6 linked regions of the Homo sapiens genome follow. The protein of the gene in region 5 purifies or fractionates together with the protein of the main gene of each other region. This does not show direct contact. Each region holds a gene or a part of one and is shown on either strand. Other genes may lie near its edges. The genes, in order: KBTBD8, SAAL1, ARL6IP5, TSPAN15, MOG and REEP5.

The links.
Region 1: the proteins of MOG (region 5) and KBTBD8 purify together in Homo sapiens (affinity purification with mass spectrometry; one large-scale study listed by BioGRID and IntAct). This does not show direct contact.
Region 2: the proteins of MOG (region 5) and SAAL1 purify together in Homo sapiens (affinity purification with mass spectrometry; one large-scale study listed by BioGRID and IntAct). This does not show direct contact.
Region 3: the proteins of MOG (region 5) and ARL6IP5 purify together in Homo sapiens (affinity purification with mass spectrometry; one large-scale study listed by BioGRID and IntAct). This does not show direct contact.
Region 4: the proteins of MOG (region 5) and TSPAN15 purify together in Homo sapiens (affinity purification with mass spectrometry; one large-scale study listed by BioGRID and IntAct). This does not show direct contact.
Region 6: the proteins of MOG (region 5) and REEP5 purify together in Homo sapiens (affinity purification with mass spectrometry; one large-scale study listed by BioGRID and IntAct). This does not show direct contact.

The regions. Positions count from the first base shown.
Region 1 is NC_000003.12:67,007,214-67,012,776, reverse strand, and holds the end of KBTBD8 (kelch repeat and BTB domain-containing protein 8), read right to left. Parts: intron 4,856-5,563; coding exon 4,392-4,855; 3' UTR 1,567-4,391; downstream 1-1,566. UniProt on the Homo sapiens protein: Substrate-specific adapter of a BCR (BTB-CUL3-RBX1) E3 ubiquitin ligase complex that acts as a regulator of neural crest specification.
Region 2 is NC_000011.10:18,088,266-18,093,924, forward strand, and holds part of SAAL1 (protein SAAL1), read right to left. Parts: intron 4,060-5,659; coding exon 3,980-4,059; intron 2,229-3,979; coding exon 2,169-2,228; intron 2,026-2,168; coding exon 1,910-2,025; intron 1,246-1,909; coding exon 1,065-1,245; intron 1-1,064. UniProt on the Homo sapiens protein: Plays a role in promoting the proliferation of synovial fibroblasts in response to pro-inflammatory stimuli.
Region 3 is NC_000003.12:69,099,789-69,104,275, forward strand, and holds part of ARL6IP5 (PRA1 family protein 3), read left to right. Parts: intron 1-2,050; coding exon 2,051-2,268; intron 2,269-4,487. UniProt on the Homo sapiens protein: Regulates intracellular concentrations of taurine and glutamate. Negatively modulates SLC1A1/EAAC1 glutamate transport activity by decreasing its affinity for glutamate in a PKC activity-dependent manner.
Region 4 is NC_000010.11:69,502,221-69,506,730, reverse strand, and holds part of TSPAN15 (tetraspanin-15), read right to left. Parts: intron 2,294-4,510; coding exon 2,246-2,293; intron 608-2,245; coding exon 491-607; intron 1-490. UniProt on the Homo sapiens protein: Part of TspanC8 subgroup, composed of 6 members that interact with the transmembrane metalloprotease ADAM10.
Region 5 is NC_000006.12:29,662,724-29,668,382, reverse strand, and holds part of MOG (myelin-oligodendrocyte glycoprotein isoform alpha1 precursor), read right to left. Parts: intron 2,232-5,659; coding exon 2,118-2,231; intron 741-2,117; coding exon 720-740; intron 480-719; coding exon 459-479; intron 1-458.
Region 6 is NC_000005.10:112,880,728-112,884,227, reverse strand, and holds part of REEP5 (receptor expression-enhancing protein 5), read left to right. Parts: intron 1-3,500. UniProt on the Homo sapiens protein: Plays an essential role in heart function and development by regulating the organization and function of the sarcoplasmic reticulum in cardiomyocytes.

The sequences.
Region 1 (5,563 bases), on a different chromosome or scaffold from region 5:
AGGATCTCTTGAGCCGTGGAGGTGACTGCAGTGAGCCAAGATTGCGTCACTGCACTCCAGCCTGGGCAGAGTAAGGCCCTGTCTCAAAAAAAAGAAAAGAAATAGAAAGATGAGTTATTAATACTTAAAGCAACCAGAAGAAAAAAAACTATAAAAATTAGAACAGAAATCAATGAAACCGAAAACACAAAACAATAGAGAAAATTCATTAGAACTAAACCTGGTTTTTTTTTTTTTTGAAAAGACCAATAAAATTGGTAATCCTTTAGGCTCCAAGACTTAACTGAAAATTCATTTCTTCCCACAAGCATTCATTGAGTGCCTACTATGTGCTAGGCATCAATCTAAAGTGCAACAGTGAATTAAAATAAATTCGTTGCCTTTGTGGAGTGTACATTTCAATGGGGGAAGACACATATGGAAAATAAAGCAGAAAAATAAAGCAGGAGGTATGATGGGGGTGGGGTTGGATGATCTTATTTTACAAAATGTGATCAGAGAAGGCCTCTCCAGTAAGGTGATGTTTTAATAAAAAAGAAAGTGAGTGAGTTGTCAAGATCTATCCAGCAAAAGAGACAGCAAGGGCAAAGTCGCTGTGGAGGTGCTCAGCAGGTTTGAGCAACAAGCAAGGTCAGTGTGGCTAAAATAGAGCAAGCCAAGTAAATGGCAACAAGTTTGAGAGGGGTGGATCATGTAAGTATGGAGTTTGGCTGTCATATGAAGGGAGATGGGAAGCCATTGGAAGGATCTGAGCAGAAGAGAAACATGATCTGACTTGTGTTTTAAGAGGATCACTCTGAGTACTGTGTGGAGAAAAGAATAGGTTATGAGGGGTCAAGGGTGATAGAAGGAAGACCAGTCAGTGGAAACTGCATTAAGTCAGATAAGATAAGCTGGCTTAGACTAGGGTGACAGTGGTGCAAATGGTATGTGGTCTGAGTCTGGATGTATTATGAAGGAAGAAGCAACGGGACTTTCTGATGAATTAAACATGAAATACGTAAGAGATTATATAGTGTGGGCATTTGTCCCCTCCAAATCTCATGTCGAAATGTGATCCCCAGTGTTGGAAGAAGTGGGGCCTAGTGGAAGGTATTTGGATCATGGGGGTGGATTCTTCATCAATGGCTTGGTGCCCTCCCTATGGTAATGAGCGCATGTGAGATCCCATTGTTAAAGAGACAGGAACCTCCCCCAACTTTCTCTGGCTCCCTCTCTTTCCTGCTCCCGCTTCACCCTCTGCCATGAGCTAAAGCCTCCTGAGGCCTCAATCTCAGGTATTCCTTTACGGTAATGCAAAGTGGACCAACACAAAAGAGTCAAACATAACAAGATTTTAGGCCAGAACAAACAGAACAAAGAATTTACCAATATAAGTGAACTAACTTGCTTTAGAATTTAAAAAGTATTATATACATAAAGTAGTTCATTTTTTACCAGAGGACAGGTATTCAATAGATTAAAATCTCATTCCATTCTATCATGACATAAGGTATTTCATGATTTTTTACCAGATTTTAATTCTGCAACACTCACTAGTCAGATATCACTTTGCAACACTGGAAGTTTTCAATCAGAAAAGGTTTTATTATAAGAAACAATGACATCAGGTAAAAATGCAAAAAATTGTGCAATTATGGCAAAATGTTTAAAAATATCTACACATTTGCCCCCACAGGACTACAGTACTTACTACATACCTGAGCACTGAACATTGAATTCCATTTTAAACTGCTTTACATAGGGAATCTGATTCCTTCATGATCACATCCATTTGTTCTCATGACCAATAAAATCAGCTTGATGCTTAAGCATCAACTTTGTAGAACAGAAAACAAAGATGGAAAATAAAGAATACAATTTCTACTTTCCTATAACATAGTTATACCCAGTCCAGTTTTCAATGTGTGACAAATATATAGGAAAGTGCTACATACATTCTTCAAATGCAAAAACAAAGTTAAAGTGGAACTGGCATTATGTTAGACCTACATTTTAATTCTGTAGTACCCATTGTGCCTTTTACTTAAGGTCTTACCACACTATGAAAATGCACCTTAAATATCTAAATATAAACCCACACATGTCACTAATCTTACTTTTCTAGGACCTCTTCTGAATCCATTTTAACAGTGGCAAAATATCCCAGCTATATAATTTAAACAAATAGTTCTTCATACAAAATTCAATATATATTCTACTCCCATAACAAATCCTAAGCCTTGCTTTTGACACACTTAACTTAGATCGTACCCTCCATACAAATTGTCATAGCCAAAAGATCAACTGTTGTGCAGGCTAAAAGAATAAATCTACTGTTGAATTAGCCACAGTATGTCATTCTCTTATATAACATACAGCCCATGTAAATTGCTAACTCAATGTTCTATGTCATGTTTTCAAGTAATACATTTTTCTAAATACACAAGATTGTCAAAAAGCGGCAGGAAATCTTATTCAACAAAGCTTTCAAAAATAAATTACATGAACATCTCTTGCAAAAAAATTGTTTTTTCTCTCTCCTCAGCAATGCAAAACTGTAAAGAATGATTTCTAAAATACACAGTAATAACTCCAAAACATCATGATGATAAAAACAAAAACAAAACAGAAGATAAAACTGGGGAGGTAAAAATGTTGACAAAGTTTATACAGAGATTACAGACATACTATCAACACCAATAAGAAGAAACCACATATCTAGCTAAGACTAGATTTTAAAATGTTAATTCTAGAAATGCTGTCCATTTTAACTTCTGCTTCAGAAAACATTCCCTACTTGTAGAGGTCTATGTAAAGCAGTTTGGAAAGTTTCTGAAAAACGAGGTATGTGATGCAAAGAGGCAATGTTTTCAATTTGTTTCACAGTATCACATTACAATTTGTGCAAGATTTTTAAAATACGAACCATGCCAGTTTGCTTTCAAGTGAATACAAATATTGTGATTGAGGGCAAAATCTGTCCTATGCTTATACCCTTTACGAATTACTCTAGGCTTAGTAAAACATGTTACTGATCCAAATGCCTGCCTTAGGTATACAAATAAGTTGGTTTATCCTTCATGTTAATATTCCTAACTGATGATTGTTAGAAATTTCATCAGTTAAATGCAAAAAATGCTTTAGTACCTAGAAAGCTATGGTTCTGTTCACTCACTCTTTTCCTTTTCAATCACCTTCAGCTAGAAGGAGGATTCCAACGTAAAAGTATTCATCACTGTTAAGTGCAAAAATGGAAAAAAAAAATGAGGTTTTAATTGTAATATGAAACTTAAAGACATTAAATTAGACCACTGCAGGAATTTTGTTTCTGGAAAGCAGAATTTTAAAAGTAGGTATAAAACTTCACATTATGCTCTGTGCAGAAGAGAAATAAGTTACCTTTCCTTGTACCAATAATGAATGGACAGGTAGATGGAAGAGAAGGTTGGGCTACAAATGGCCCATGTTAGTGCAAACTGGGTATAATGTTCCTACTATTCTAAGATTGAGTCCAGTTAGATGAATAACTGGCCATACCCTCCTATCACATAAGTAGAGAATCTTGTGAAATCACAAGAGTTCAACAGGTAAAGTACTATGGCCATGAAATCCACACCAATTTGAAAGATAGGCATAGGCTCAGACCATTTAAATCCATCTAGTTATACACATGAATTAAGTTAGACTAGCACCAGCCACCTGTGAATATGAGCACTTTTCCAGATTTTCACAAAAGAGACAGTGTTAGCACTTGAAAAAGTCATCGACAGAAAACTGCCACTTTAAAACTTTAGCTTAACTTAAAATTACATGGGAAATGGAAACAATCAGACTAAAAGCTCTTTCTGAGACTAATTTTTTCTTCGATCTACTCTAATAATAGAACACATTTAAATCTCAGTACACTTGAAAACAGTACACAAAAATAGATACATATAAATATTAAGAATGAGGATCTAAGTTAGTGCTTCTCTGTGTTAGAGAGGTCACAGCTAAAGTCCTAGTGATATTGCCTCAGATTGTTACCCGTATTTAAAATTAAAAGTCACATCAAACAAGTTTAGACGTCTTTACCCAATAATACCCTAAATGCTCTTATAAGAGTGCATAGTTGTCCTGATTCATCTGGTACCTCAGTTACTATTTATCACAAAATTATAAAATGAAATGATTAATTTTATGCCAGGAAAAAAAAATGCTGATAATTGCACTTTGTTATCTTTTCCTTACTGAAATGAAATGTCACAAGGATGAAGGAAAATCCCTCCCTACCCTGCAATCTTTAAGCATACCCATTTTCCATGTATAAAACTCTCTCAGCTTTCTGAAATACTGTCAGCACTCTTTTGTATCAAAGACAAGTTTCCTAAGAATGAGATGCCAGTGATGCACTAAGGCCTGCTACTCATTTAGAGTACTTTCTGAAGACACTGAGGATACAGTTTAGCAACAGCACATTCAAAATGCCGGCCAAGGTCCCAGAGCCGATCTGGGGTCTCATACACTTTCATCCACTGGTCAGCAATGTCATCATATTGGTAAAGGGAATTTTTTCTGCTGGTTCTGAAGACGTGTTCTTCAACAGTCACTTGAGTAGCTCGAACAAATAAATGGAGTTTGTTCTGGAAAAGTACCAGTTTAAGGTATGGATTTATGGACTGATCACATGGAAAGTCTTTCTTACGAGTCCATTTATTTAGCTCAATATCATAGGCTTCTACAGTAAACATACGTTGATGATTTCCACAGGTTCCAGCTATGTAGTAGATAGAGTCCTTGTATACAGCTGCTAAGCCCTGGATTCTAGGCACAGTCATGGGGGTTAAGAAACCCCAGTAGTCTTTTTGAGGCTCATAGAAGAGAAAAAATTCTCCTAAAAAAAAAAAAAAGAAAACAAGAATATGTAAATTTTTATGTTTGGTTTTTGGTTATATGTTGTAACTACAACCTCTAAAGATTAAAGGGCATAATTTGCTATATATTTCACTTTCTAAAACATTTCTTTTATAATCTCCAGAGATACATTCATATGGGTTACAAAATACCTTAAAACTTTGTCATTCCATGACACAATATAACAGATAATATTATAATCAACCTGAATTGGGAGGTTTGTATTGGGAAGGTACAAGGAGTTACTTGGGCTTGATGGCAGAATTGTTAAGAGCTTGATTCTGGCCAGGCACAGTGGCTCACGCCTGTAATCCCAGCACTTTGGGAGGCTGAGACGGGTGGATTACTTGAGGTCAGGAGTTTGAGACCAGCCTGGCCAACATGGTGAAACCCCATCTCCATTAAAAATACAAAAATTAGCCAGGTGTGGTGGCAGGCACCTGTAATTCCAGCTACTCAGGAGGCTAAGGCAGGAGAATCACTTGAACCCAGGAGGTGAAGGATGCAGTGAGCCAAGATCACGCCACTGCACTCCAGCCTGGGTAACAATGTGAGACTCCATCTCAAAAAAAAAAAAAAAAACACAAACTTGATTCTATTTGCTCTATCCAATTTGTGTGTTTATAGAAAATTCATTTTACTCTAGCTCTAAAAAAGCATTATTAGTAACGTTCAGCCAGTAAGACCA
Region 2 (5,659 bases), on a different chromosome or scaffold from region 5:
ATATTTTGGATTCAGAAGGTACATGTTGGGGGTTGTTACATGCATGATGCTGAGGTTTGGGAATATGGATGGTCCCATCACCCAGGTGATGTATGTAGTACCCAAGCTGTGTTTGTTTGTTTGTTTTTCTGGACCTTATCCTAAGGAAGGCAACTGAAAAGACCGAAGCATGAGAGTGAAATGAGTGCGTACTTTGCAAAAACAGCTTTAAAGTCTAGGCTTGGGAAGAGCAAGCATAGAGGCAGGGAATTCAAGTAAAAGAATGTGGCAGTTCTCCAGATGAGAAACAATAATGGCTTGATTGGCATGGATGGAATCCCAGAAAATGTCAGGAATAAGGGTTGGGAGTTGACTGCAATGGGAAAATACTGGGGCAGGAAAGATTCAGTAATTGGCTTCTCCATTTCTTCTACATTATCCAAATAGGATAATGATTACATCATTTACTGAGATTGAGAATACTGATGAAGCAGGTTTAGGGAAAGATGATGAATTTATCCCTCACTTGGATAAAGGACACAAAATTAATAGGTTTTGATGTGGCTTACTCAGCACTAAGAATGCACTAAGAAAAACACTAAGCAGATCAATTTAAAAATTAATTTTCTAGTGATTAGCAATAAACAGTTTTAATGACCTGTAAGGCTTAGTAATCACTCTTGGCAAGACATCAGAGTCCCAACATCGGTCACTTATTGAAGACTGGCATATAAACACAAGGAGCAAAAAAAAGCAAATGATGTGCAACGTTAATGAAGTTGTTAAATGTTCAATGTAAAATAAAGCACAAGAAAATGTTTTCTCTTTGATTTAAATTACATAAAATATGGTAAGACAGAAACCACAGTTAATGTTGAGTAACAGCCTATAGCTAAATGATAATATAACAGGAACTTTGTAACCACTATACAGGTTGCATCACAAATAGTAGTAGTGAATTAACGTAACAAGGAGTGACTATGTACTTTATTCTGTTGTAAGGAATATAAGAAGACTTTTATATCTGAGAATACTTCTAGCAATTGCATTTTCCCAGAACATTTTACACAAAAGAGCTCACCTACCGTACTTGTTTGGCAGCTTCAAGTATACAGGGCACAAGCCGAAACACTGGCTGCTCTTCAGACTCTTCCTGGGGTTGGTCCAGAGGCTGAGCAGCCCCATTTCTGACCCATTCTAACATTAGTTTCTCATCCAAATCAAAGAGCTTGTCCACAACCTCCCCCACCTTCACCAGCAAGTCAACTGCAGAGAATAAAACAGATATTGAAATGAAAAACAAACTGCTAAAAGCAATAGGGTTAAGCAAAATTCCTAAAGCTATTCTAAGAAAACCAAATCTTGCCAAAGCAGTACTTATTCTAAAGGGTGATTTACTTATCTTTTATGTTTAAATTTGCTTATCTTTCCTCATTTTTAAATGAGGAATTTATCAGTGTCCCAGGAGTTTAAGAAATTTTGTATCTTCAATCAAAAAACTTTCTCAAAAAAACAAACAAAAAGCTGGACATGGTGGCTTACACCTATACTCCCAACACTTTTGGGAGCCCAAGGCTGGATGACTGCTTGAACACACGAGTTGGAGACCAGCCTGGGCAAGAAAGCGAGACCCCGTCTCTACAAAAAATTTTAAAATGAGCTGAGCATGGCGGTGCATGACTATAGTCCCAGCTATTGGGGAGATTAACAGAAGGATACCTTGAGATCAGGAGTTTGAGGCTGTAGTAGGCTATGATCACACTACTGCACTCCAACCTGGGTGACAGAGCAAGATTCTGTCTCAAACAAACTTCATTACCTTGCACTCAAGGCTTTTTTTAAAAAGGTGACTTCTAGAAATAGTTACATGGTTTCCTAAAAATTAGATACAATTTAAAACATTTTTTTTCTAGAGTACATGATGACTTACCATTTGTTGAACTTGACATAATGAAGCAAATGCTATCATAAATAGCTGGATGTTCCTGGATCCTTTCAACCCAAACACTGGCCACTTCTGCCTGGGAAAGGCAAGTAAGCAACAACCTACATGGTAAACGTGGGTTGAATTTCTACTTTTCAAAAAAAAAAAAAAAACAGTAAAGGAAATTCGAAAATAAAAAATTAACTTTTTTTTCTTATCTACTCTTATGAGTAACCTTATAGAATTCATAAAAGGAAAAGCATACCTGCTTGTTTCCAGCAGAGTAGGTGGGTCTGAATCATACAAACAGTGCAATAACACCTGCCTACAAAAACAAAGAAGTTAACCGATATGCCTCACTTCTCGCATTTAAAATATCAGAGTTTTCATTTAATTTTTTGAACATCTTTATTGTGAAATACAGCATATATTCAGAAAAGCTCAAAAGATACAAATCTATAGTTAATAAATAATTATAAAGCAAACACTCGTGTTTCCAAGAAACAGAACAGAGCTGCATCTTTGTAGTCACCATGTGTCCATTCCAAATCACAATTCTCTTTCCCACCTAGAAATGATGACCATTCTGATTTTTCCAGCAATCATTTCCTTACTTTGCACTATAGTTTTATTATTTTATATATTTTGGTGTTGCTTTATACTGCAGGTAAAAGGATTAAGAGGACATGCTGAATAAATAGACATAATCTGGGAGGTTATTTGGATTCATGAAGACAGTCAAGGAGGGGAGACAACATATGAAATAAATTATACTTATTGAGTCTTCATTTATTTGCTGAAAATTATACATGTAAGATCTACCCATGTTGTTTCTTTAGCTGTTATTCTTTGACAGACTGCTGCAGAGCACTCCATTGTGTGAAAATAACACAATTTATTTTTCCAGACTACTGTTGATGGACATTTCTGTTGATTCCAATTTGGGGCTATTTCAAGCAATCCTCCTACAATATTTGTTAAGAGTTATCCTGATGCACACGTGCACAGTTTCTCTTACCATATATGCCCACTATGAGCTGGTCACAGCACATGCATATGTTCCAACGTGACCAGATAATGCCCAACTAAAGTGGTTCAACAAATTTATATCCCATCAGCAATATAAATTGCACCACACTAATATTAAGACAAGCATTTAACTGAATTTATAACATTTGTTAACATTTCTCATTTTTGGATTTTTGATAGAGAACATTAGAGACCAAACATAATCTTAAGTCATTTGTTCCATGGATGATGGTAAATTACTGAGGAATAAATACTCTGAACTAGGATCTTAAAGTCCCTCCACAACTAGGAGTTCTCTCTTTCTGAGAAACCCAGGTACTTGAATCCTGTGATAAAACCCTCATGGCCCCAGCTCTGACAAAAACTGCCTAGAACAGTTTTCTTAACCTATTTTGGGTACAAATTTCTTTGAGATTCTGATTAAAAGCCATGAACCCTTTGCCTAGAAAACTAATACACTCACAAAATTCAGCATATAATTTCGGGGTGTTCTCCGAACACAGTAACCACTGGGGTTTCCTCCATTAAAACACCTTCTGCCCAGAACTTTACACATGGAGAAGAGAACGAGCCTCGAAGCAGATATCTGAAAGTCTTTTCATCAGAGAGGCAACCCTTTATCTTCCAGTTGTTGGCAAGTCTTACACTCTAAGTCAGAGCTCTCAGGATGACATTATTCAACAAATCTAGTTTCTGTAGACTCCAGCTGAGTCATTGGATTCCCTGCCCCTAAACTGTTTTGGATTCCAGTTGGCTGCCCCATCTCCAAGTTTTGGCCCACTGGTTCTTCCCCTATCTGGCTTATTGCCACCAGCTGACAATTCAGGTTCCTTTGCTACTGAAGAAAACAGGCTTAAATCCTGAATCATTTCAGTATCTCCTGAAGAAGCCCCTAGCTATCATCAACACACAATGAAGTTCCCACAGAGTGTTCATCAAGACAAAGAAAGGACTGTCTTTCAGATTTGCTACTTTTCCTATGTATTAGAATTTCCTTAAGGATATAAATGAATATATTAAAAAACATAATTATATAGTAAGACTTACCCAAGATTTTTATCACTGCTGATGGACACACATATCTCCTGGAAACAGGCCATATTACCTAAAATTCCCACACAGATTTCCTGCCAAATCAAATTTTACAAGTCACAATGGCTCTGAGACGAAAGACGTAAACAAAAATATCAACTTGAACAAAAACTTTCGCTGAGCCAAGTTTTGGGGCAAGGCGGAGGGGAGGCAGGATAAAGAAATACATATACTGCCTGTACCCTAACCTTGACAAGCTTACAGTATTTGAGAAGGGATGAAAAACGTAAGAACAAGAAAGGGCAAAGGCAGGAGCTATGCGAGAAGAACTTCTATCGATAAAATGAGTTTTAAATGATTGATAGGAATGAGATATGCAAACAAAAAGACAGACATTCAAATAAGGGGAAAGTATCAGCAAAGGCAGGAAGGGAATCATGTACATGGCGAATACTGTAGACAATAAAGTACTCTGGTTGTGGCACAAAGTGGGTGAACAGCATGAGGTAAATACTGCAGGTATAAAGGACTGAGATTAAGGGCTCTGAATGCCGTGCTGAAGAATTAGACTTAATCTGGGAAGTTATTTGGAATCATGAAGATGCTCAAGGAGGGGAGACAACATACTGAAACAGTATCTTAGGAAGATTACTCTGGTGGCGAAATGCATAATGTATTAGTGTAGTCCCTCTTTATCCATGGTTTCAGTTACCCATGGTCAACCTTGGTATAAAAGTACTAAATAGAAAATTCTAGAAATAAACAATTCATGTTTTAAATTGCATGCCTTTCTGAGCAGCACGATGAAATCTTGCACCGTCTCACCCAGGATGTGAATCATTCTTTTGTTCAACATATCCACACTGTATGTGCTGCCTGCCCATTAGTTACTTAGTAGCCATCTTGGCTATCAGATCGACCATCGGGATATCTCACAGGGCTTGTGTTCATGTCACCCTTATTTTACTTAATAATGACCCCAAAGCACAAGAGTAGTGATGCTGGCAATTTGGATATGCCAAGGAGCCGCCATTAAGTGCTTTCTTTACATGAAAAGGTAAAAGTTCTTGACTTCATAAGAAAAACAAACAAAAATGTATGCTGAGGTTGCTTAGGATCTCTAAGAACAAATCTATCCATGAAACTGTGAAGAAGGAAAAGGAAATTTGTGCATATTATAAATAGGGTTCAGTACTATCCTCGGTTTTAGGCATTGGGGGCCTTGGAATGCAACCCCCAAGGATAAGGGGAGACTAGTGTATAGGGAAAAGAAGTTGAAAAGAACTTAAGAATCTATCTCAGTAATAGTTAATTAATATGTAATAACAGTTTATTACCACTCACGGTGGCCAGGCATTACTCTAAGCATTTTCTGTGTATAATTTCATATAATAACTTAGGTGATAGGTACTAATAGTATCCCCATTTTTTCAGATGAGGAAACTAAGGCACAGAGAAGTTAAGCTACTTGCCTAAGATCTTAAGATCTCCAACTAGAACACGGCAGAGCTCCAGAGCTTGAGCATTTAACCACTATTCCAAACTGCACCTCAGTTATCAAGATGCAAGAGGAGGAGGGCCCTCAGGCATGGAAAAGGATGAAGCTGAGGAAGACTCTCAAGGTGAAAGCAAAATAATCCAGTGTGAGGATAAAGGAGAAAGCAGTTGAACTTGACTCCTAGCTTTCAAGTTGCC
Region 3 (4,487 bases), on a different chromosome or scaffold from region 5:
AGTCCTCATTAGCCTCTAGGGTAAAAAGTTAAGTAACTCATTGTACCAGCCCACCACAGACGTCTTGTTAAGGGTTTTGTATACACAGTGGATTGGGGTGGGCGACTATAATGCCCAAAACTTTGTCTAAATTTCTTCTTCTTATTATCATTATTGAGACAGAGTTTTGCTCTTGTTGCCCAGGCTGGAGTGCAATGGCGTGATCTCAGCTCACTGCAACCTCCACCTTCTGAGTTCAAGTGATTCTCCTGCCTCAGCCTCCCAAGTAGCTGGGATTACAGGCATGTACCACCACGCCCAGCTAATTTTTGTATTTTTAGTAGAGATGAGGTGCCACCATGTTGGCCAGGCTGGCCTTGAACTCTTGACCTCAGGTGATCCACCCACCTAGGCCTCCCAAAGTGCTAGGATTACAGGTGTGTGCCACCATGCCTGGCATAAATTTCTTCTACATAATGTGTTTCCTCCATTATCAATAGTAGTGTAATTGCTATTACATACTAAACATTTGGCTTATATAAGAATGAATCTGGAACTGTGTGCTTGAAAATCTGCATTGGTAACTCATCTCCTAATGATACTTTGGGCATTTTAAAACACTTATAATGAACTCTCTATGTGAGGAGTCATAAACTCAAATGCCTCCATGGGGCAGGCAGGTTATGTAAGAGAGCGATTCAGGCCAGCTATTAGAAAAACAATGATTAGACTGGGCATGGTGTGGCTCATGCCTGTAATCCTAGCACTTTGGGAGGCCGAGCTGGGCAGATCACTTGACGCCAGGAGTTCAAGACCAGCCTGGCCAACATGGCAAAATCCCACCTGTACTGAAAATACAAAAAATTAGCTGGGCGTGGTGGCATGTACCTGTAATCCCAGTTACTCGGGAGGCTGAGGCACAAGAATTGCTTGAACCCAGGAGGCAGAGGTTGCAGTGAGCCAAGATTGCGCCACTGCACTCCAGCCTGGGTGACAGAGCAAGACTCTGTCTCAAATAAAAAAAAAAAAAAAAGAAAAACAGTGATTAATAGCACCTCACTTTGGGCCTATGTGTCCATGATGCAGTAGAGAGCAGTGTGGACTGGAGCTCAATGGAGACTGTTTATTCTGTCTGAATGAGAAGGCACTCAAGCCAGCTGTTGACATGTGGGAAAGTGGGCCTAGCACTGTTATTTTCTTGTTCCAGGAGAACAAGAAATCCCAAGTTTTCTGGATTTTTTTTTAACACATGGGTTTCAAGTAAAAGTTTTTTAAAACACTGTACAGGCCAAACAAAAATGTGACTGTATACTGGATCTAGCCCATGGAGGCCATTATGTGGCCTGTATTCTACATTCGTCCATCATGAGCTTCTCTGAGGATTTAAATAAACCTTTAGAGCTAAGAAAACACAACCTACTGTGTACTAGAGCCCAGGATGTAAGGAAGCTAAACATAGTACCTTCAAAAGAAGTTTTAGTCTTCAAAATTGTGGACCTCTAACGAGATACTTTGATGGGAACTGCCTGGGTGTGATCTCAGCTCCACCTTTTTTTTTTTTTTTTTTTTTAATGAGATAAGGTCTCACTCTGTCACCCAGCCAGGAGTGCAGTGGGGGAATCTTGGCTCACTGGAGACTCAACCTCCCAGGTTCAAGTGATCCTCCCACCTCAGCCTCCTGAGTAGCTGGGAACACAGGTGTGTGCCACCACACCTGGCTAATTTTCATATTTTTGTAGAGATGGGTTTTGCCATGTTGCCTGGGTTGGTCTTGAACCCCTGGGCTCAAGTGATCCTCCCACCTTGGCCTCTGAAAGTGCTGGGATTATAGGTGTGAACTACCATTCCTGGCCTTCCCCACCATTTTCTAACCTCTGTGCCTTAGCTTCTTCATTTGAGAAATGAACTAATAGTATCTCCTTTATAAGGTTATGAGAAATCAAATGAGACAATTTAGATAAAGTATTAAAGTATTAGTAAGTTCTCAATAATTGTTTTTACTCCTCTTTCTCCTTTTGCTACTTCTATTGCTGAACTAGTCACCCCTCATTTTTTCTTCCTCATATTTCAGGTTTCTGAGTCCCTTCAACATGATCCTGGGAGGAATCGTGGTGGTGCTGGTGTTCACAGGGTTTGTGTGGGCAGCCCACAATAAAGACGTCCTTCGCCGGATGAAGAAGCGCTACCCCACGACGTTCGTTATGGTGGTCATGTTGGCGAGCTATTTCCTTATCTCCATGTTTGGAGGAGTCATGGTCTTTGTGTTTGGCATTACTTTTCCTTTGCTGTGTAAGTGAACTTGAGTTTTTTCTTCCATCATCAAAAAAATGTAGAAGCAATTATCCAACGGGAATTCCATAACCCATTTCTTATATGTGTTGGCATGTCAGCAAAAGTGTCAGAATTTTCTAAAACAGCTTTCTACTTGTTATCCAACTAGACCCAGATAACACAGAACTGAGGTCAAGAACTATGAGGTCAAGGCCTTATAGTTCATTAATTCCACAAATATTTGTTGGGGCATCTGCTATGTGTCATACATTCTTTTGTTGTTGTTGAGATGGGGTCTACTCTGTCACCCACGCTGTGGTGTTATCTCGGCTTACTGCAACCTCTGCCTCCTGAATAGCTGGGACCACAGGTGCACACCCAGCTAATTTTTTGTGTTTTGGGTAGAGACCGGGGTTTTACTATGTTGCCCAGGCTGATCTCGGACTCCCAAGCTTGAGTGATCTAGCTTCCTTGGACTCCCCAAGTGCTGGGATTACAGGCGTGAGCCACTTCGCCCAGCTGTGTGCCATACATTCTTATGGGGACACAACAGTAAACAGAACAAAGACAAATCCCAGGTCATACAGCAGGAATGTGGCATAACCTGCACTAGACTCCAGATTTGTCTAATAAGAGAGTCTATTCTCAATTTTTAAGTGCCATTCCTATTGTCCTGACACAGGAATGAATGTATTTATTATTTGGAAGTAGACTATTTATTCTCCACTTGCTCAGGAGATCATAACTAGTGTTAAAAGTTTGGTAAGTCTATAGGAATAATTGGCTCAGAATATAGGTACTAAATACTCAGATTCTGGTGAAGAGATCTAGATATTCTCTAAGTTTTACATGAATTATTTACTAAGACTCCAAACACTTGAAGCCTGAAATAGACAAGAAATAAAATCCCAGCCTAATCAGCAGAAATCTGATTAAAATTCTAGTATATTAAGTGACAGGCACATCCCTTTAACTTTCAATAACATTTGACATGTGCACTTATTCCACTAAATGAAATTATTTGCTTGTTTAGGGCTTTGTTAGATTAAGTCCAGAATATTTATGGATACATCCCATACCCTATTGGATAAAATATCTGAGCCAACAAATTCACACATTTTTGGAATTTTCTTCAGGTTTTCTGTAGGTGCTTAACGCTTAGTATTTCAATGATACTGTTTAATCAAACAGCTTGCTAATTTTAATACCTTTCCACATCAGAACCTGAGACAGGCCAGTGTAACGAAATGTATCAGAGGTAGACAGTTAAGAGTCCTGATTTCTATTCTTAGACCTGCTGGAAACCAGCATGTGATTTGGACCAGTCATCCTATATGGGCTGTAGTTCACTCATCTCTAAAGTAAGGAGATTAGATAAGTGATTCCCAAACGGATAATTGTGACAAGCATTCAGGATACTTTTTAAAAATATACATTTCCCAGCCACATCTTTATTTTGTGGGTCAACAGTGGTACCCAAGGATGTTAGGTTTTTAGAAAGCTCGTCAACTATTTCTAACGGGTGGTCTAGGTTGAGATCCTCCAGATGAATCCACATCAGGGTTTTTCAAAATAAGGGTCCAAGATCCACCTACATCAGAATCATCTGGAGTGATTATTAAAATAATGAATTCTGGAGCCTTCCCTCAGTTGTAACAGTCTGAATTTGGGGTGATGGAGACCAGGAATTTGCCTATTTAACAGGCTCTCCAGGTGATTTGAATGTACATGGAAGTTGTAAAACCACTGGTATAGATCATATGGAGAGAGGGTTACCTGTTTAAAATACAGATTCCCAGGCCTGTCTCTTTAAGGCTCAGGTGGAGGAGGTCCAGGAAAGGGGATAGGGAATCTGTGGTAAAATAATCAAGCAAGTTTGGGGAACGGTAGGCTATAGAAACTCTGTAAAGCCCTTAGATTTTTACATCTAGAATTCTATACCCAACACTTTGGGTAAAGCCTCCGGGAGGCACTTTAAAAGTGGACTTTACTCACGTGCTCCTGCAGGGAACAAGATACAGATAATCCCGAATCGAGCAAGAGTTCTTTTCTGGAAAGCCTCGGGTAAGTTGATTTTTAAGTAGGATGGAATCCCGTTGATTCACTCTGAATTTCAGGACATTTAAGTAGCATCTGCAAGGTGATGATATCAGTGTGTGAAGGAAAGGGTGTGGCTTCCAGATAATGGTCCTTCCTGTTGAATACAGCATTTTCCTTTAATGCAGAAAAAAAACTAT
Region 4 (4,510 bases), on a different chromosome or scaffold from region 5:
CCCTCATGGTCCTGTGTGACCTGGGCAACACCCACAGCAGAGACTTCTCCCAGCACCCACACTGCCCAAGAAGCTCCCACCTGGGCCCCCTCTCCCCTTCCCAGGAAATCCCAGAGCGCCTCGCTGTGCCCCATCAGCAAGGGCCCCTCCCTTCTGGGATTCCTGCCTCCACCCCAGCTCTGCTGCACACTATCTAGGGGATCTTGGCAAGTCACTGAAGCTTGCTGCTCCTCAGTTTCCTCCTCTGTGAAATAGGCATTATAATAGTGCCTCCCTCACAAAAAGAAGTGAAGCAGCAGTGCCTGCGCAGCACTTGGAAGAGCTTCGCCACGACTGCTATTGCCATTTGCCCCTCCTTCCAGCCATGCAGCCCTCCCCAGGCAAGTCCTGGACTTCTATGAAAAAAGCCTCTTCGCTCTTCCCCTCTGCACCTTCTCTGCCCTTCTGCAATCACCAAGTCACACTTTCTCTGAACCCACGGCCTGCCCACCTGGGGAAGCAGGATGCCCAGGAGGATGCCCGCCATGATGGTGTAGTTGTCCATGAACCAGATGATCACGGCGTTGGTGCAGCCCCGCACGTAGATGACATCCTGCACACTGAAACGCTGCATGGGAAGGAGCTGGGTCAGCCCAGCAGAGGACCTCGGCTGGCAGGAGCCACAGCCCCGACTCTGCCATGTACACAAGGTCCAGGCTAGTCCCTCAACCGCTGTGATCCTCAGTTTCCCATATGCAGCATGAGAAGGTGACCCTAGATTCTGATTCTTAATGGACAGTACTGTTCTCTAGAGAGGACTGGGGACACCGTGGTGGCACTTTTGGTTGCCCCAGCAAACGAGGTTGGCGGCTGAGGGACTGCAGAGCTCAGGGTAATCCTACTCCACAAACAACTGCCCTGCCTGTGTGCTTCTCAGATGTCCCTGCATGAAAAGCCTCACGGATGTTTTCCATACATGAAAAGCCTATTTATAATTATCCAAGCCAATAGCCCCACTCCAGGTACATATAAAAAACAAAGCAGAGTTGGGCATGGTGGCCAGTGCCTGCAGTCCCAGCTACTATGGAGGCTCAGTTGGGAGGAGTGCCTAAGCCTAGGAGTTTGAGGCCAGCCTAGGCAACAGTGAGACCCTGTCTGTCTCTTAAGGGAAAAAAAAAAAAAAAGCATTTCTGCATTGGTTTTAATATACAAAGAATTTTCCAGAAGTACTACTAGGTAAATTAAGGAATGATTACACATTATTTAATTCAGAACTTTATCAAGAATTGTTCACCGTTTTTAAAAACCATGCCAGTGGCAAAAATGATGCCCATGGTATGTGAGTCGCCAACACAATGCCCAGTATCAGCTGCCCTGTAGCTACTACAGCCTCAGGGATGCCTCACATCAGTGCAGACACCTGACTACATTGTGTCTTCTGCACCCCCCACTGCCTAAGCACTTACATGATGAACTATGTTAAACAGCTGTAAATTGCTGTATTTCATTTCTACTTTATCTCAGATCATTATGTTAATTGTATTGGAATTGGGCATGTAGGTAGGTTATCTGTGAATTTCACTTGGGGATAATAAATAGGACATTACCACTGTTTGTTATAAAAATGGCCATTGGTTCTGAGGGGCTGAGAACCACTGCTGGTCTATGGCTCTCAAGCATGTGTCAGAATCACCCACTAGCCCCATACCAAGAATGTGCATTTCTCACATTCCTAGGGGATGCTGTTGCTGCTGGACTGGGGACCCCACTTTGAAAGCCACTGCTCTGCATGTCAGGTCACTATTCCTTTTAGGTCCCTTCTCAGCACCACCCCTGCTTCTCTCCTAGACCAGGGGTGTTGCCCAGGAAGCTGACCCAGGAGCAACCCCCAGAGGGGGTTACCATCCTCTAGGACTCCTGGGTCCCAGGTGGCCCCAGGGGCAGAGGCAAGCTGGTGCTGAGCATGGCTGGGCACACAGCACGCTGCGGGTACCAGGAAGCGCCGTGGTGGCTTCATGTGGAACAGCCCACAGTAGGTGCTCGGCAAACCCTGACAGGCGGCATCTCCCAGCCTGGGGGAATTCTTGGTTCCCTGAGCCCTTCTGTGCTGGGGTGGAAAACCACAGCAGTCCTGGCTCTGGGTCACAGCCAGGAATGTGGGAAAATCTCAGTGGCCAGGACCCCGACCTCAATAAACCCCTCCGATCACCCCAGGGTGGACCAGGAAGAGCAACATTTCCAGGGAAAGGCATTTCAAAGACATTACCTCCTTGTCGATAGTTTTGTAGCCACACATGGTGTTGACAACTTCTGTCTGAAATGGAAATGTATAATAGCTAATATTTATAATGGTTCTAACTCAAAAAGGCACTATTATCCTACCCATTTTACAGATGAAAACCGAAGCACAGAGTTGCACCGTCCAGCAGGGATGGAGCTGAGATTCCGACCCAGGCAGTCTGGCTTGAGTCTCCATCATAACCACCTCCTCCTCCAAGAAATGCCCCGTGAAAAAACTGTAGGAATGCAGGTTCCATGACTTTTACCTGGGAGAACCACCCCTCCACTAGCAGCAGATCAGGACCCCAGAGAAAGGTGTGCTGCCCACGCTCCCGGGCTATGACCGCCCCAGAGCACCGCTTTGCTCACACCGTCTCAGAGGTCGGGGTGGGGCTGTTCCTGCGCCGCTGGCTCTTGGGGAGGAAAACTTCAGACTACAGCTGGCACAGGGTCAGCTGTGGTTTACCTGAGGTCCAGGGCAGGGCCCCTGGCCATGCTTCCGTTCCATAGACCACTGCTCCACCAGCGGAGAGTGCTGCCAAAACTTCCTTCTTGGGAAGAGAGGTGCTCTCCAGAACTCCCGACTACTGATTAATTTAGGCATAGGGAAACCTGTGGTCACGCCCTAGACCTCATCAAACCCCTCCCCAGGCAGGCCCTAACTCACAGGCTGCCGCGGGCACTTCCCATCACCACCTGTGCCCCGCAGGGTCTCCTTCTCCAACCACCAGGGAAGAGAGTGAGACTTCCTGGTCCAGCCCATGACCGTCCCCCCCAGCCCCGCTGCTCTACATGTAAGTGAACGCTGCCGTGAGTGCTGCAGGCGCCAGTGATGACTCAGGAGGGCAACAGCAGAGCCCCCAGCGTGCCCTCTGGTGTCACATTTCCTGGGTCCAGATCTTGCTCTGCCACTTAGGAGCAGAGCCCAACCTTAGGTGGGCTGCTAAGGAACTGGCACGCAGAGGTACTCAATACATATTTGTTAACTGAGAAAATGAATGAATGAATAGGTTGTGATGATCACAGAACCCACCTCCTAGGGCTGTTTTGGACATAAAGTGAGATACACATATAAAGTGCTTATCACGGGGCTGGGCACATGGAGGAGCACAAGAATGCTGGCTGGCGTGATTTGTTCACAATTCCAGCCCCTGCAAAGGAAAGGGAGGGTGTCTTCTCTCCTTCCGAGAGAGGGTTGGGCCTCAGATGTCATCTAGGTCATTCTAAATGTCAGGGCTTGATGTGCAGGCAAGACGACCTCCCTCGGTTTAGCTGGTTCTCCAGGTAGCCTCAGTCCCAGCCATGCCCAGTGCCCACTGGGCATTAGTCAGCCAGTGTTTTTGGCCCTTCCAGGCCATAAACACAACCCCTATGGAGAGGGTCAGGCCTGGAGAGCAGGTGCACGGGCACATGATGGGAGTGAGTGCTTTCCATCTCATTGGTTCATTCATTTGTTCATTGAACAAATATTAACTGAGCACCTATTGCATGTCAATCCCAGTTCTAGTCACTTGAAATACAGAACAACAAGACAAAGTCCCTGCCTTCATGGAACTTACACTGTAGAAAGGGAGATAATGAACATAACAAATAGGTAAGCTGCATGGTACGTAGGGAGGTGACAAGAGTGACTTCACTGGGCCAGCTCTGGTGACCTCGGGGGATGAGTCTCTTAGCACACAGGCAACTGGCAGAGGCCTCTCTGGCATCAGAGCCCAGAACCCTTCTCCAGGCCCAGGGGGGACTCACCTCACCCTGCCAGGAGAGCCCCTCACCAAGGGGTGAGGGGATACGATGCATCCATAGTCTTTCCAAAAGTAAAGCCTGCCTGGGTTTACCTGCCTGACCATAGAATCGATATTCTGCAAGAGGCTCTGCTGAAGTTCACAGGCCCCAAGACCAGGGTCCAGTAGCCTCTTCCATCCTGCACGGGGCCACAGGACAGGAAGTCAGAAGGGGGACTCCTGGGCAGCCAGAAGATCACAGCAATGTTTGTGTGTGCATCCTCTCACCCTGAAAAGACTGAGCAGCTAATGGGGACAGGGAGAGGGGCCTTCGCGACAGGCCCCCAAGGGGTAGCCAACAACAAGGGAGGGGAGGTACGTGAAAATTGGTCCCAAGAGCTCAGCAGGCACAGCAGTCTGGAGCCATTTAATGTAGAAGCACGCTGCCCTCTGCACCAACATCTCCGAGGGATATATCCTGGTATAACCAGATTTTACAGCCCTATGTGAACTTCTATGGCTCAAAT
Region 5 (5,659 bases):
TCTATTCCTCTATGAGGTCTTCTCTGATTAGTCATGTTCTGTACTCATGGAAACATCCTGAGTTTGTAAAGCAGAAATATAAGTACAGGTGATACAGTTGTGTCTTGTTTCTGTTTGTTTCACCTCCCCAACCAGACATCAGGTTTACGTGTAAACGATCTATTTACCTCTGTTTTGCCATTCCTGAAAAGAGAGATCATGTGCATAAGGAGTTAAACAGAATAAGATAACATTTTTGTAAAGTAGTTAGAATAGTGCCTGGCACATAAAAACAGTACATGAGTATTTTTATTATGATTTTACCAATCCTAAATGCAAATGACTTCTTATTTAAAGAAAGAAAAGAGAAGAGAGGAAGGGACTCAACCAGGAGCCAGGGGTCCTTGTTCCCCCAGGTGACTGGAACTAGAGTGAAATACCAAGTTGACCTGGGAGGGCCTAGACATGCCGGAACTTACCAAAAGTCCGGTGGAGATTCTCTGAAAGAGAAACAAATGGAAATGGATTTAGTAGGGCACTCAAAAAGGATCTTTTATCCTGAGTCTTTGTTATTTAATTACTTAAAACTTGTTCTAGGCACGACACACCCACTGTAGAGAAAGGGAAACTGAGGGGAAAACAGGGTATTGAGAGGGAGAGACGGTCCAAGAACGGGACCATTTCCGTTATGCCAAAAAACCAAAAGGCAAGAATTGGGAGAAACGATGACTGGAACTCACCTATCTCTGCTCGAAGTTTTCCTAAAATAGAAAAAGGCAACATTTTAGTTCCTGCATGTTCTGGCTCTCGGTGGGGACCCTCCCACACCCAGCGCCTGGGCCCCTTGTGCAGGCTATTTCTCTGCAGCCTGGAAACAACCTCAGGAGAGTAGGAAGAGCACTGGATTTAAAGCCAATGGTTGCGGCTCTTTCTCTAGCTATAGTCTAGATACAATAGCGAATAAAGAATGTGAGCAATGCTCCAAGCCAGCACAAGCATCCAATACATCCCAGCTGCTCTTCGCCCCTTTTCTTGGATTCTCAGTTCACAGAGCTGCTCCAGCCCACTGCGTTGCCACTTTGTTTATCTAAAGCCACTTCCCATCTGAATGAGGAGGGAGGAGCTGAACATTTAGTGAGTAGCTAGCTACTTTGTGACTGGATTTGTAGTAGGCACTTTGCATGACTTTAATCCTCCCTACAATTTAGGACGAAGGATGTTTTCTCTATTTGACAGACAAGGCAACTGAAGCTTGGAGAATCTAAGAATTTTGCTATAGAGTTCAGTACCTGAGATGGAATTCAAACCCAGGCTGCCTGACTCTAACATTCAGATTCTTTCTGCTCAGCCATGAGGGCTGAAGGCCTTTTTTTGTGTGGAAGAAGTAAACAAGCAGGCATCTGGGATGAATTCAAGGTGAGAGAAAGGACTTTGTTGTTGATCGCACCAACACCCATTCCCCCAGAACATTCCCCATACCCTCCTTGCTACTTTCTCCTCTCCTCTTAGTAACAAATGGGAGGTGGGGCATGGGGAGGAGTGAAGACTCTTCCTGCTCTGGCATTGGGGAGACACTTGGTAGGAGGAGAAGGCTCAGAATGAAAGCTCTAGGCAAAAAAGAGGAGCTTCATCAGCAGCTGAACCTGAGTCCTCAGTGTTGAATGGAGAAAGAGGAAACAATTTTCGAACGCCTACTGTGTGGTAGAGACTTTCACTTCAGTATCTTTATTCAAAACTCCTAATAGCCTAGACCTGTCTGACTTCGAAGCTCACACTCTCCCAAGTTGCATGGAGCTGCTAGGTATGATACAGAGGCCTCAGCTCTACCACTTATAAGTTATATCGGTTTGAGTAAGTCACTGAACTACTCCTGGCCTCAGTTGTATCCTCTGTAAAATGGGGTTACTATATGGCATAGTTAGCTCATAGGGAAATGCTAGGTCCGATTATTCATATGAAAGCATTCCGTAAGATGTAAAACTCTTTCATCATGGAGTTATTTTTTTTCTTTATCACTCAATAGTGAGAAGAACTTCTGAACCCAGAAGTCACTCACAAATACATGTTAAGTGGTGTAGCTCCAAGAAGCCAGCTCATTTAAAGAAAGGATCCTGATCCACCCACCCTCTGCCCTGTACCTCTCAGTCTGTACTGCAGGCAGAGGAAGATGAGGCCAACAGTGATCTGCAGGAGGAGCACAGGCAGCACCGCGAGGAGAACCAGCACTCCAGGGCTCACCCAGTAGAAAGGATCTGAAAGGCAGGACTGACATTTGACATTGTCCAGAGCTGAATCCCCAACACTCAGCATGGTGTCTGGGGCCCAATAAATCAGGTCAAATAAAGAAGTGAATATCATCAGGATTCAAAGAAGGTGACACAGAATTGGTCCCTGAGCTTAGCCCTGAAGGAAAAATGGCTTTTTTTTCCAGGAAATGCTAGTGATTTAGAATGACAAGTGGTTTAAAGTCAAGATTGTGTATTGGGTCAGGCTGGGGGAGTTTTAACGAGCAGCTAAGGGACTTACATCTGAAGTCCCTCAAGGGACTTTTTATTGACGACAAAGTCAAAGGTTCTCTTCATATTATTGTGGTGTATCGCCTACAAGCATAATTAAAATAAACACTAAATTTCAGTTTAAAGTTTACTGAAAATAAATATGTATTTCAAATATGTAGTTCAAGGCTGTGGTGGTGCACTGAAGGATTCCAAGCTGAGAAGTGACCACGTCAGATTTAGCACCTACAGGACTGGAGAACATAGGGAGAAATGTTAAGAGACTGTGATAACAATTAAAGTAAAAAACAACATGAACCTGAACTAGGACAGTGGTAATGGTATAGGAAGTCAGGGGATTCAAAGCTTAAATAGGGAATAAAAAATACATATTTATTTTCAGTAAACTTTAAACTGAAATTTAGTGTTTATTTTAATTATGCTTGTAGGCGATACACCACAATAATATGAAGAGAACCTTTGACTTTGTCGTCAATAAAAATCACAAATATTGGCCAGGTGCGGTGGCTCACACCTGTAATCCCAGCACTTTGGGAGGCCGAGGCGGGCGGATCGCCTGAGGTTGGGAGTTCAAGACCAGCCTGACCAACATGGAGAAACCCTGTTTCTACTAAAAATACAAAATTAGCTGGACGTGGTGGCACAGTCCTGTAATCCCAGCTACTCAAGAGGCTGAGGCAGGAGAATCGCTTGAACCCAGGAGGCGGAGGTTGAGGTGAGCCGAGATCTTGCCATTGCACTCCAGCCTGGGCAACAAGAGCGAAACTCCATCTCAAAAAAAAAAAAGAAAAAGAAAAATCACAAATATTTTCACGTCACATTAGAAAAGTCACAGAAATCTCAAACTATCACTTATGTTCATTACTATTTTGAAATTACACTAATTAATAGGGTCACCCTAACTCTTGTTAATTTAATATTTTGATAACTGTATTTTGGTATAAATGTTTTATTTGGTGTATTTAAAACATTCTTCTGGCTAGGTGTGGTGGCTCTCCCCTGTAATCCCACCACTTTGGGAGGCCAAGGCAGGAAGATTGCTTGAGCCCAGGAGTTCTCGAGGCCAGACTGGGCAACATAATGTGAGACCCTGCCTCTACGAAAAAAAATTAAAAATTACCTGGGCATGGTGACACAAGCCTGTGGTCTCAGCTATTCAAGAGGCTGAGTCAGGAGGATCACTTGAGCCTGGGAGGTGGAGGCTGCAATGAGCCATGATCGTGCCACTGCAACCAATCCTGGGTGACAGAGTGAGACACTGTCTCAAAAAAAAAAAAAAAATTCTGAGATGGGTCTATCAACTTCATCAGCTTGCGGAAGGTGCATGACACACAACAAAAGGTTAAGAGCCCTCTTCTAGAGCTTTTAAGAAGGTAGTTTACAGCGGGCATGGTGGCTCACACCTGTAATCCCAGCATTTTGGGAGGCCAAGGTGGGTGGATCACTTGAGGTCAGGAGTTCGAGACCGGCTTGGCCAACATGGTGAAACCCTCTCTCTACTGATAATACAAAAATTAGCCAGACATGGTGGTGCAGCCTGTAATCCCAGCTACTTGGAAGGCTGAGGGAGGAGAATTGCATGAACCTGGGAGTTGGAGGGTGCAGTGAGCCGAGATTGCACCATTGCACTCCAGCCTGGGTAACAAGAGCAAAACTCCATCTCAAAAAAAAAATAAATAAATAAATAAAAGAAAAAAGAAAAAGAAGGTAGCTTACACAGGATTCAGTAACTGAACAGATGTGCAGACCTGGAGATGTGGAGTAGGTTGAGCAATGAGGGAGGGGGACCTTCACTTCTGTGGCTCCCATCTATTTCCCATTCTAGGTCTGCTCCTCAGCATCCAAAAGCCCCACTCTAATCTCCATGTGCCATGCTGCAGCTGAAGCCCTTTTCATCTTGATCTCTGCTTTAAGGGAGCTGAGTAAGGATAATGACATCAAAGGTAGGGATACATCACAGCTAATAACATTAAACTGGTCCAGGAGGGTTGCTTAGGTATAATTACAATCCTTCAAGCTGTAGACTAAGGCTCCTGTCTATCATTGTGTTCCCTAGGGGAAAATGCAGCTACCTTTACTTTCAAGTTCTTAATGGAAGTTACCTGTAGCAATGTGATTTAGCGAGTATGTACTTAAGGGTTTTTTTCTCCCAACCCCCCACATTTTTCCTTTCACAAATAATTAGAAAAGAGAGAAAAGCAGACATTATCAGCCTCCGGATGTAAAGCAACAAGAAGTATAGAGTATCACTGATGAACTATATTTGCCAAAGTAAATCAAACACAAATGTCATTGCACCTCCACATCTATCAGTTTACAGAAAAACACAGGGCATGGAGGACCGTATTACATAGCAACATGGGAATGTCGTCAACAAAATTCAGACCCTGGGAAACCCTAAGGGCAAAGGTCAACAGGTGGGTCTCATTTGAATCTCGCTAAAAGAAACCAACTGTAAGAGTATATTTATGAAACAATCAGGAAAATTTGAACACAAACTGGGTATTTGATGATATTAAGAAATTTTTGTTGAGTTTGTAAGATGTGATAATAGTATTGTGGTTATTTATTTATTTATATTATTGTGTGTGGGGAGGGGGGGCTTTTTTTTTTTTTTTTTTGAGTCTCACTCTGTTGCCCCAGGCTGGAGTGCAGTGGCATGATCTCAGCTCACTGCAAGCTCCGCCTCCCGGGTTCACTCCATTCTCCTGCCTCAGCTCCCAAGTAGCTGGGACTACAGGCGCCTGCCACCACGCCAGGCTAATTTTGTTTTTGTATTTGTAGTAGAAATGGGGTTTCACCATGTTAGCTAGGATGGTCTCAATCTCTTGACCTCATGATTCGCCCTCCTTGGGCTCCCAAAGTACTGGGATTACAGGTGTGAGCCACCGCGCCCGGCCTATTTATTTTTTAAAAAGTGTTCTTCGCTGGGTGCAGTGGCTCGCGCCTGTAATTCTAGCACTTTGGGAGGCCGAGGTGGGAGGATTGCTTGAGCCTAGGAGTTTGAGACCAGCCTGATCAACATGGTAAAACCCAGTCTCTACAAAAAATACAAAACATTAGCAGTGTGTGGTGGTGTGTGCCTGTGGTCCCAGCTACTATGTAGGCTGAGGTGGGAGGATGGCTTCTGCCCGGGAGGCAGAGGCTGCAGTGAGCAGAGATAT
Region 6 (3,500 bases), on a different chromosome or scaffold from region 5:
AATGCCTTATAGGCCATTGTAAAGGTTTGGCTTCTACTCTATGTGAGATGTGGAGGTACTGGGGACTTTTAACCACAGAAGCAAAATGATCTGTCCTGTGTTTTAATAAGATGCCTGTGGCCACTGTATTAGGAACAGACTGAAGGGGTAAGGCAGGAAGTTGGGAGAACAGTTAAAAGGTTCTTGCAGTGATCTGGCTGGAGGTGATGATGGTGGCTTGGTTCCTTGTGTAGCAGTAGGGGGTAAGAAGTATCAGATTCTTGATATATTTCAAAGGTAGAAGTAATGGGATTTGCTTATGGATTGGCTTATGGATTGGGCATGGGTCAGAGGGGTTAAGGACAAGGACGAGCTTTTTAGCCTGAACAGATGGAAGGATAAAATTGCCACTGAGCTGGAGAAGACTGGGTAGAACAGGTTTTGTTGGGGTGGGAGGTTGTGGTGGGTGGGAGGATATGGAATTTAGTCCTGGACATTTGTTTGAGGTGTCTGTTTGTTAGATACCTACAAGGATTAGTCAAATAGCTAGTTGGATACAGGTGTCAAGAGTTCAAGAAACAGGTCTGGACTGGAGATATAAATTTGGGGGCCACAAGCTTATACATATTAAGCATGAGACTAGATGAGATCACGAAGGTAGTGTAGTTAGGAAACAGGAGGTCCAAAGACTGAACGCTGGGGAGTCTAAGGTTTAGAGACTGGAGAGATGAGAAGCAACTAGCAAAGCAGACTGATAAGGAGTGGCCAATTGAGGTAGCAAGAAAACCATGAGCGTGTGGTATCCCTGGGGCCAAGAACAGAAAGTTTTTCTTTCAGAGAGGAGAAGTGATCTGTCATGTTACATGCTGTCAACAGGTCAAGTAAGATAAGGACTGAGAACTGAGCAGATTTAGCAATGAGGAAGGTACTAGTGATTTTGATAACACAGATTTTGTGGAGTGATATCAAACTCCTGATTGCAATGGATTTGAGAGAATGAGAGAAAAGGGATGAGAGAATATAGATCTTTCTTTTGAGAAATTTCCTGCAAAGGAGAGCAGAAGAATGGGGCTATAACTGGAAGAAGGAATTATGGTCCTGAAATTTTAAAAGTTTTTTTCTTAAGGTAGGAGAAACAAAGCCTGTTTGAAAATTAATGGGAATAATTCAACAGAGCAAAAAATGATGATAGGAGTGAGAGGGTGAATTGTTGGAGCTCTGTCCTTGACCAGTGAAGGATCCAGTATACAGTAGAGGGATTGGTCGAAGAGCTGGAAGTTTATGGTAACAGCAGGGAAATCAGGTTTTATGGTATGCTGTGAGCACATGTGACTATGGGAGCCTACAGAAGTGACTTTCTAATTGTTTCATATTTCTCAGTAAAGTAGGAAGGCCAATTGAGAGAGGATGGGGAAGGAGACAATGGAAAGAGAAGGTATGAAATAGTTGCGAAGGAGAGGGACTGCTCATCTTTTTCTGTAAAGGGCCAGATAACAAATGTTTTAAATTTCGTGGGCTATCATGTCTCTGTTGCAGCTACTCTTCTCTGCCATTGTAGTGTGAAAACAGCCATGGACACTACATAAGCGAGTTTGGCTGCAGTGTGCTGGCCCCTCTAGGACAGTTGGAGAGTAAATGGACTGTCAGGCAGTGTTAAAGGCATGCTTGAGATTTGCGTTCATGAATTTATAGTGAAACCAGTTCTTGTTTATGTTTTTCTCCAGCCATACTCAGCTACATGGGTATAGCTACAGAGTAGGTGGAGAGTTGTGTCAAGGTTGTGATTTCCAGCAAGAACTATGAAGTGAGGGTGGGACTGTGGAGTGGTTAATGCTTGACAATGGAATTTAACCTGAGTAAGGTGGGAAGTGGTGGTGGAAGAACTCTGAATCAGGATAATAGCGGGAATACTCCATCATCATCTACAATGAGCAAAAAAGCAGGGTGGGGAGTGCACTACAAAGATAAAAGGTGATGGTGGCTGAGTGGGATGCTTGATACAAGATTATGGAGGGACTGCAGTATTGGTACTAACAGGGATCCTGGGAGTCAGTGCCATATGTAGGGTGGAATATAAGGGTTATTGGAGGGGAGGAACTAAGAGGTCAGGATATTAGAAGATCATCACATATGTCTACATGGATATTAAAATCATCAATAATTAAAATAGGAGTAGTAGGTCAGGTGCAGTGCTCACACCTGTAATCACAGCACTTCCAGAGGTCAAGGTGGGTGGATTGCTTGAGCTCAGGTGTTTGAGACCAGCCTGAGTAACATGGTGAAACCCAGTCTCTACAAAAAAAAAAAAACACAAAAATTAGCCAGATGTGGTGATGCGTACCAGTAGTCCCAGCTACTCAGGAGGCTGAGATGGGAGGATCACCTGAGCCTGGAGGTTGAGGCTGCAGTGAGCTGAGATGGCATCACTGCATTCCAGCCTGGGTGACAGAGTGAGACCCTGTCTCTAAATAAATAAATAATAGGAGTAGTGTTAGAAAGGAACATTAAGTTAGGAGCTAAAATCTTCAAGAACTAAGGCAAAGTAGCCCAAGAGTCAGGGATGACAGGGAAAGGGAAGGCTACTCAGTGATAGAATCTGATGACATGAGATTCTGAAAGTGGCAATGAAGAACAAAAACAACACCTACCAGATCCATTTGTACTAGGGTCATGAGAGGAAAGAAACAGCCACCACTTGAGAAAGCAGTGTCCTCAGGGCACAGCCAGCTTTCTCTAAGAGCAAGAAGGTAAAGGAAACATTCGGAGGAATGGATGAGGATATAGATTTTGCCAGTGATGGGTCTTGAGTTCCAGAGGGACTCAGATTTTAGAAATTGGAGAAAGGTTTTTGTGTTTTAGAGCTCTGTGGTAGTTAGACATGGGAGTTGTGAGGTTGCCTGACCATGGGGAAGTAAAATCCCAAGACAGTTCTCCAGCAGCACTGATGCCCCAGAAGTGGTATGTTCCCCATTTCTCCCTCACAGACCTCTCTTCTCTGGACTCCTATTTTTGGGCATACAAATCCAGTCTACTTGAATATGTTTTAGGTATTTTTTAACTTGTAGCCTTAACCTCCTCCCACTTTAGGATTGCCAGCTTTTTTTTTTTTTTTTTTTTTTTGAAACAGAGTCTCACTCTGTTGCCCAGGCTGGAGTGCAGTAGCATGATCTCAGCTCACTGCAGCCTCCACCTTCCAGGTTCAAGGGATTCTGCTGCCTCAGCCTCCCAAGTAGCTGTGATTACAGGTGTGGGCCACCACGCCCAGCTGATACTTGTATTTTTAGTAGAGACACCGTTATGCCATGTTGGCCAGGCTGGTTTCAAACTCCTGGCCTCAAGTGATCCACCCACCTCGGCCTCTCAAAATGCTGGGATTACAGGCATGAGCCACCATGCCCAGCCAGGATTACCAGCTTATTTTTAAGAGCTTTCTTTTCTTCTCCCTTCCCTTAGCCTAATCAGCAACCTGTGGTGATGTCATTTCTGTCTACTTCACCCACATTTCTTAGCCTCTTGGTTCT